Homo sapiens: one gene and its partner. The protein of the gene in region 1 purifies or fractionates together with the protein of each later gene. This does not show direct contact. Each region holds a gene or a part of one and is shown in the gene's direction. Other genes may lie near its edges.

Region 1 (3,813 bases):
GCCTTAAGGACAAGCGAGCCGGTCTCCCCTCCCTGCCGTCTGCTCTGCTGTGCTTCACTGTGTTCCAGAGCCTGTGGCCACACGGTCCGAATGGTTGTCAGTACTGCTACCAAAGGACAAAGCGGGTCAGAGGGGAGGACTCCCTTGGAGGACCGTGTCAGAGCCGCCTTGCTGTCTGGCTTTGCCGTGGTTCCCGGCCCTCTGGGCCGCAGTCGGGGATGTGGACCAGCTGGTGGGATGCCACGGGGGAGCAGAGCGAGCCACCCCTTCCTTCTGGGGCCTGGCAGCCTGGGGGTGAGGCAACTCTGAGCGTGTGAGACGTGCCGTTGCCTGCCAGGGAGCCAGCGGCTGGCCTTTTGTCCAGTCTTACTAAGCTGCCCGTCCCTTAAGTAAATTCATTGCCACATAGGGAACATTTGTCAAGGGGGCAGTTTGGTCACCCTGATGTGTGTGTAACGGGCCAGTCACTGACCAGGTGGGAAGCCACTATGCTTCATACCATTTGTTTAGTTTTTTTTTTTTTTTTGAAATGGAGTCTCGCTCTGCCGCCCAGGCTGGAGTGCAGTGGCGTGATCTCAGCTCACCGCAAGCTCTGCCTCCCGGGTTCACGCCATTCTCCTGCCTCAGCTTCCTGAGTAGCTGGGACTACAGGTGCCCACCACCACGCCCGGCTAATTTTTTGTGTTTTTAGTAGAGACGAGGTTTCACCGTGTTGGCCAGGATGGTCTCGATCTCCTGACCTCATGATCCGCCTGTCTCGGCCTCCCAAAGTGCTGGGAATGCAGGCGTGAGCCACCGCGCCCGGCCTTTTTTAATTTTTTTAAGACAAGGTCTCGCTTTGTCGTCCAGGCTAGAGTGCAGTGGCACGATCTTGGATCACTGCAACCTCTGTCTCCAGGGTTCAAGGGATTCTCCTGCCTCAGGCTCCAAAGTAGCTGGGACTACAGCCGCCCACCACCATGCCCAGCTAATTTTTGTATTTTTAGTAGAGATGGGATTTTGCCATGTTGGCCAGGCTGGTCTCTTTAACTCCTGACCTCAGGTGATTCACCCGCCTCAACCTCCCAGAATGCTGAGATTACAGGCGGGAGCCACCGCACCCGGCCTAAGAGCTATACAAAGTTTAAAAGTTGTATTTCCATATACGAAGCCGTCACAGGGTTTCTCCATTTAGTAAAGGCCTGGTGAGAGAAGATGCACTTGGTGCTGTCGTTTTCCCGGGCTCTGTTGAGGGGAAGTGACGCGACAGCATAGTTTCCAACGTCGGATCTAAGCACCGACCCTTCTCTTGCAGCGCTTCAAGTCCTCGGTATACAGACGGTACAATGACTTCGTGGTCTTCCAGGAGATGCTCCTGCACAAGTTCCCCTACCGTATGGTGCCTGCCCTGCCACCCAAGAGAATGCTGGGAGGTAAAGCCAGGCGTGCTGCCCACCGGGGGCGGAGGGAGCGAGCCCATCTCCTGGACCCTGTGGTCCTGGCTCAGGGATGGACCCCACTGTAGACCGGGGCAGGTGCAGGGCTGCGGGGGAAACTCCAGCCTTTTGGCATCTGGGACAGAGCTGTGGCTTGAGCCCAGCCTTGGTGCAGGCAGGGAGACTGGCACCCGGCAGCCTTGGCCCACCAGAGCCTTCAGCTGCATGACTGACAGGTGGGGAAGCCCTTGCTGTGCAGGTGTGAAAGAGAACCCTAGTTCTCCTCTCCAGAGTGCAGTGGCCAGGGCTCCCGAGAGCTCCCGAGAGGGCTGCCAGGAGCACTGTGTGCTCACCTGGCTGGCATTGCCCTGCCTGCATCTGCAAAGCCATGGCAGCCTGAGCCATGGGCACCATGGGAGCGCTCGGTGGCCTCATGGAAGAGAACTGAGTTGTGCAAGTAGGAAATGTCAGCTGCATCTTGCAGGAGAGAAAAAGCAGCACACGGCTGCCTCACCTTCACCTCTCTGCCTGAAGATGGCCTCGGGCCAGGTGGGAGATCGCAGACGACCTCAGAGCTGCTCCCCAGGCCTGTGTCCCCCTGGGCTGCAGAGCTTGGGATGGCGGCTGCCAGCTCTGATCTCACTGGTGGTCTCTCCCTCAGCCCGTTCCTCAAATTCTGAATAAAACATGCTGGGGAAATGAGTGCTTAGAGCTGATCATGGCTTTCTGCCGTTCCCAGCCCTTCCACAGTCACCGTGTCCTGGACGGGGACGCAGCATGGGAGCTAACACAGTCGCCAGTTCCCCGCATCTGAAATCGTACGATGATGCATAAATGCTTCTGCCTCTCATCGGTCACTGAGCAAGCAGCCCAGGGTCTGATGATGTGATTTTCACCCCGCCGCATGTGAAGGCCACAGAGCAGATCATTCAGCTCACGCTGAAGGGCACACGGGCGCTCAGGGCAGCAGAGAGCAGAGGACGCGACAGGGATGTGTGATGCTGGCTCAGGCCTGGGCATCCGAGTTGATGAGCGCTGGCTGGCGTTCAGCGCCTGGAAACTGCACACGCGCGCTGGGCCGCTTGCGCATTTAAGGAAGTGCAGCCTCATCGGAAGAGGCCTGCCAGTGCTGAGCCAGGAGGGAGCCCCAGCCACCTACCTGTATTGTTTGTTTTCTTTCTTTTATGGTGTTTTTTTTTTTTTTTTACATGGAGTCTCGCTCTGTCGCCCAGGCTGGAGTGCAGTGGTGCAATCTCGGCTCATGGCAAGCTCCGCCTCCCGGGTTCACGCCATTCTCCTGCCTCAGCCTCCCGCGTAGCTGGGACTACAGGCGCCCGCCACCACGCCTGGCTAATTTTTTTGTATTTTTAGTAGAGACGGGGTTTCACCGTGTTAGCCAGGATGGTCTCAATCTCCTGACCTCGTGATCCGCGCACCTCAGCCTCCCAAAGTGCTGGGATTACAGGTGTGAGCCACCGCACCTGGCCTCTTTTATGGTGTTTTTTGTTTTTGTTTTTGTTTTTGAGACGAAGACTCGCCGTGTCACCCAGGCTGGAGTGCAGTGGTGCGGTCTCGGCTCACTGCAAGCTCCGCCTGCCGGGTTCACGCCATTCTCCTGCCTGAGTCTCCCAAGTAGCTGGGACTACAGGCGCCCGCCACCACGCCTGGCTAATTATTTTTTTTTGTATTTTTAGTGGAGATGGGGTTTCACCGTGTTAGGATGGTCTCAATCTCCTGACCTCATGATCCACCTGCCTCAGCCTCCCAAAGTGCTGGGATTACAGGTGTGAGCCACTGCGCCTGGCCTCTTTTATGGTATTTTTCAGAGACAGGGTTTCGCTACGCTGGCCAGGCTGATGTAGAACTCCTTGGCCTCAAGTGATCTGCCCTCCTCAGCCTCCCAAGAGGCTGGGATTACAGGTGTGAGCCACACTCCTGGCTGTATTTCTTAATACATTAAAAATAGTATTTAAAGGCTGGGCGCTGGTGGCTCATGCCTGTAATCCCAGCACTTTGGGAGGCTGAGGTGGGCGGATCACCTGAGGTCAGGAGTTCGAGACCAGCATGACCAACATGGTGAAACCTCCTCTCTAATAAAAGTATAAACATTAGCCAGGTGTGGTGGCGGGTGCCTGTAATCCCAGCTACTTGGGAGGCTGAGGCAGGAGAATCGCTTGAACCTGGGAGTTAGAGGTTGCAGTGAGCCGAGATGACACCACTGCACTCCAGCCTGGGCGACAAGAGTGAAACTCCGTCTCAAAAAAAGTATTTAAATACCATTTTTGTTTGTGTTCAGATTGAAATGTCCTGAATGCATCAGTATATGCTTTTACTTTTTTTCCCCTTGGAGTGAAAATATTTAACCCGAATGAAAGCAATGAGTAATTGCATCCTTTGC
Region 2 (3,813 bases), on another chromosome or scaffold:
ATAATATTCTTTCTTTTGGCACTTGTATTTCCTTGCTTCATGTGATATTTAATTAAATCATATAGAATATTAAGTACATTTCATACGAAGAAGTAGAGCATTCTAGAGAGAGTCACCTGTTCACAGAGTGTCATCGTACTCTGGGCATCAGGCAGTATGATTTTCAAAGGGAATAAGGGGCATCAAGCTAGTGAAGTGAAGGTTGGTTAAAAGCTTCCTTTGTAGTTATATTTAGAATAGTATTCTTGTGGGAAACTGTATTTAGTAGCATGCTCCTATAGTGTTTGGGGAGTGAGATAGGCACTTCATGTTTACATTCAATGAAGATTAGTGAATTCATCTTTCCATATTTGTTATTATTCTGAATTATCTCCTTTTGGGGAATTTTATAGGGAAGATATTTTACTCTAATTAAAAATGTTGTCTGACTGGTCCTTTCAGGTTATGAACTGACTGGTTTAGCCAGAGGTGGGGAACAGTTGGCTAAATTAAAGAGGAATTATGCCAAAGCAGTGGAACTACTGGTGGAACTAGCTTCTCTGCAGGTAAGTAGCAAAAGACCTGGAGAACTCCTGTAGTTTGATTTGTAACAGTCAAGTGGAGGAGAGTCAGGTCTTGAGTCAGCATATACTGTGCTTTGTACTTTTAACTGTTCCCATGATCCTATGTAAAGCAAACATAATATTTTGATTTCTGAAGTGATGGCTTTTGTACCATTGTCCCTACTTTTTAAAATTTATGTATTTTTTATTTTTTTGAGATGGAGTTTTACTCTTGTTGCCCAGGCTGGAGTGCAATGGCGCGACCTCGGCTCACTGCAACCTCTGCCTCCTGGGTTCAAGTGATTCTTCTGCCTCAGCCTCCCAAGTAGCTGATTACAGACATGTGCCACCATGCCTGGCTAACTTTTGTATTTTTTGTAGAGACAGGGTTTTGCCATGTTTGTCAGGCTGGTCTCGAACTCCTGACTTCAGGTGATCCACCCGCCTCGGCCTCCCAAAGTGCTAGGATTACAGGCATGAGCCACTGCACCTGGCCCCTACTTTTAATTTAAAAATTTATTTATTTTTCGAAATGGGGTCTCACTGTGTCACCCAGGCTGGAGTGCAGTGGCATAATCCCAGCTCACTGCAACCTTAACCTCCTGGGCTTAAGTGATCCGCCCACCTCAGCCTCCTGAGTAGCTGGGACTATAGGCATGCCCCATCACACCTAGCTAATTTTTGTATTTTTTGTAGAGGTGGGGTTTCACCATGTCGTCCAGGCTGGTCTCGAACTCCTGGGCTCAAGTAATCAGCCCGCCTCATCCTTCCAAAGTGCTGGGATTATAGGTATGAGCCACCACACCCGGCCCCTGCTTCTTCTTGTTAACAAAATGTATGTGCTATGGTACACTCTTGTTTTTTTTGTTTGTTTGTTTGTTTTTTTCTTTGAGACAGAATCTTGCTCTGTTGCCCAGGCTGGAGTGCAGTGTTGCGATCTTGGCTAACTGCAGCCTGGATCTCCTGGGCTCAAGCAGTCTCCCGCCTCAGCCTCCCAAGTAGCTTGGACTACAAGTTTGTGCCACCTCGCCTGGATAATATTTTTGAATTTTTTAGTTGAGATGAGGTCTTGCTACGTTGCCCAGGCTGGTCTCAAACTCCTGGCCTCAAGAAATCCTGCCATCTCAGCCTCCCAAAGTGCTGGAATTATAAGTGTGAGCCACCTCACCCAGCCCAGTTTCACTCTTTGCTAAGTAAGAATAGCAAGTTGATACTAGATTTAAATGTAAATGTAAATAAACATCGTTTGTGCATGGAAGACCATTTTTTCCCCTATGTGGCCAGTTAGTATATATCTAGGTTATTAATGCTTGATTCTTTCTTGTCATTTTTATGTTGTTATTTAGGTGAGACTATAGTAAACAAATTATAATAGTGTCAACTCAAGTAAAGCCTGTTGAAGCAGAAATGATTTGATAAAGGTTTATTGAAAGCCAAATGTGAGGATTGACCCGGGAAGACACCAACAAAGTTGGGTGTGTTCTAGAGTCTGCTACAAGTTGGAAGGCTTTTATGGGAAAGTTTAGGAGAAGGGAGGACTCCTCATACCCAAGTTGTCCTTTTCATTGGCGAGTACAATACAGAGGTCACAATCATTGGCTACAGATTACAAATACAAGCTAAAATGTTCTACATGCAAGTAAATCATGAAGTAAAACTTCATGAATCAGAAACAAATCAGTGTCATTTTCAGCGTCAGTAGGTTGCATATTAATCAGTATGTCAGCAGTCTGAGAAACTTAAGATTTCCTTACTCAGGGACAGGATGTAAACCATGAATCATAAGATCCCTCAATCTGCCCAGGCAGGTTAATTTGGAAACCTACCAAATGTGACATGTAGGTTATCAATAGCATGGAAATAGTGTTAGCCCTATGGAAATCTCACAAGAATTTTGTTTTTGTTTTGTTATGAAGAGACAGGGTCTTACTCTGTCACCCAAGCTGGAGTACAGTGGCACAGTAATAGCTCACTGCAGCCTCAAACGATCCTCCCATCACAGATTACCAAGCAGCTGGGACTACAGGTGCATGCTACTACACCCAGCTAATTTTTAAAATTTATTTCTTGTAGAGGCAAGGTCTCATTGTGTTGCCCAGGCTGGTCTTGAACTCCCAACTTCAAGTGATTCTCCCACCTCAGCCTCCCAAAGTATTGGGGTTATAGGCGTGAGCCATGCGCCCAGCCTAAGAATTTTGTTTTTTAAGCATGCCAAAAAGAAGTTGTCTTGGTTCTCAAATGTTTTCTACAAGTGCAGTCTTAGTGGAGTCAAGTGATCAGGGAATGATTAGGAAGACTTTGTGCTTACATTATTAATTTGTTCTTATTTTAGACTTCTTTTGTTACTTTGGATGAAGCTATTAAGATAACCAACAGGCGTGTAAATGCCATTGAACATGGTGAGTATTAGGTACTGTGAGGTGCTTTGTCACTTGTCCATACCCTCCACTTGTCGTGAAACTGCTAGAATTCAGGGACTGTACTGAAGACTGAAAGATGAATAAGATGCTTCCCTTGCCCACAGTGCAAAGAGAGAAGTGTGTCCATAGTAAAAAAAAAAAGTGTTATGAAGTGTTCTGATAGAAGTACTTGTATGATCTGGGGGAGTTACACACATAGGAAAGTGGTGACTTAAAAATTATGGAATGTTTTCTTCATTTCCAGTTATTCATGCAGTTATTTAAGGGTAGGAATATTTCTCAAGATCCTTAGTGTTTTCTGTAGTTCTTTCTAATGGTTGAGTGATGCAACTTTTTGAGTACATTAAATATTTAACTTTAAATCAGTATAAGCCATTCTCCTTGATTTCTAAAAAATTTCCCATTTGATGCACTTATTTTCCATCTCTTTTATTTCACTATTTAAAAAATATGACTGCTTAGTGTTGATGGTACTTTTTGCTCAATAAACTTAGTTTTTATTAAAGAAACACTCAATTTTAGGTAAGAAAGCAAAATTTGAAGTAAAGAAATTCCTTTGCTTGGGAATTTCTATATTAATGCTAGTGAGAAATATATTAACTATTATATTAACTATGTATAATATGATATATTAACTATATTGTTAGAAATATATTAACTGTTATATTAACTATATATTAACTATATTAATGTTAGTGAGAAAGTTACCTCATTTTTTAAAAAACCTTTTTGACTGCTTGCTAGTGCCAGGCCTTGTACATGAAAGTGGAAGCAAAGAAAAAAAAAAAAAAAAGGATAATTCGTAGTTCTTACCCTCAGAGTTCACATTCTAGAAGCTGAACAGGTAAACT

The links.
Region 2: the proteins of SNX8 (region 1) and ATP6V1D fractionate together in Homo sapiens (co-fractionation; one large-scale study listed by BioGRID). This does not show direct contact.

What each region holds. Positions count from the first base shown.
Region 1 is NC_000007.14:2,272,711-2,276,523, reverse strand, and holds part of SNX8 (sorting nexin-8), read left to right. Parts: intron 1-1,294; coding exon 1,295-1,412; intron 1,413-3,813. UniProt on the Homo sapiens protein: May be involved in several stages of intracellular trafficking. May play a role in intracellular protein transport from early endosomes to the trans-Golgi network.
Region 2 is NC_000014.9:67,342,500-67,346,312, reverse strand, and holds part of ATP6V1D (V-type proton ATPase subunit D), read left to right. Parts: intron 1-441; coding exon 442-545; intron 546-2,874; coding exon 2,875-2,941; intron 2,942-3,813. UniProt on the Homo sapiens protein: Subunit of the V1 complex of vacuolar(H+)-ATPase (V-ATPase), a multisubunit enzyme composed of a peripheral complex (V1) that hydrolyzes ATP and a membrane integral complex (V0) that translocates protons.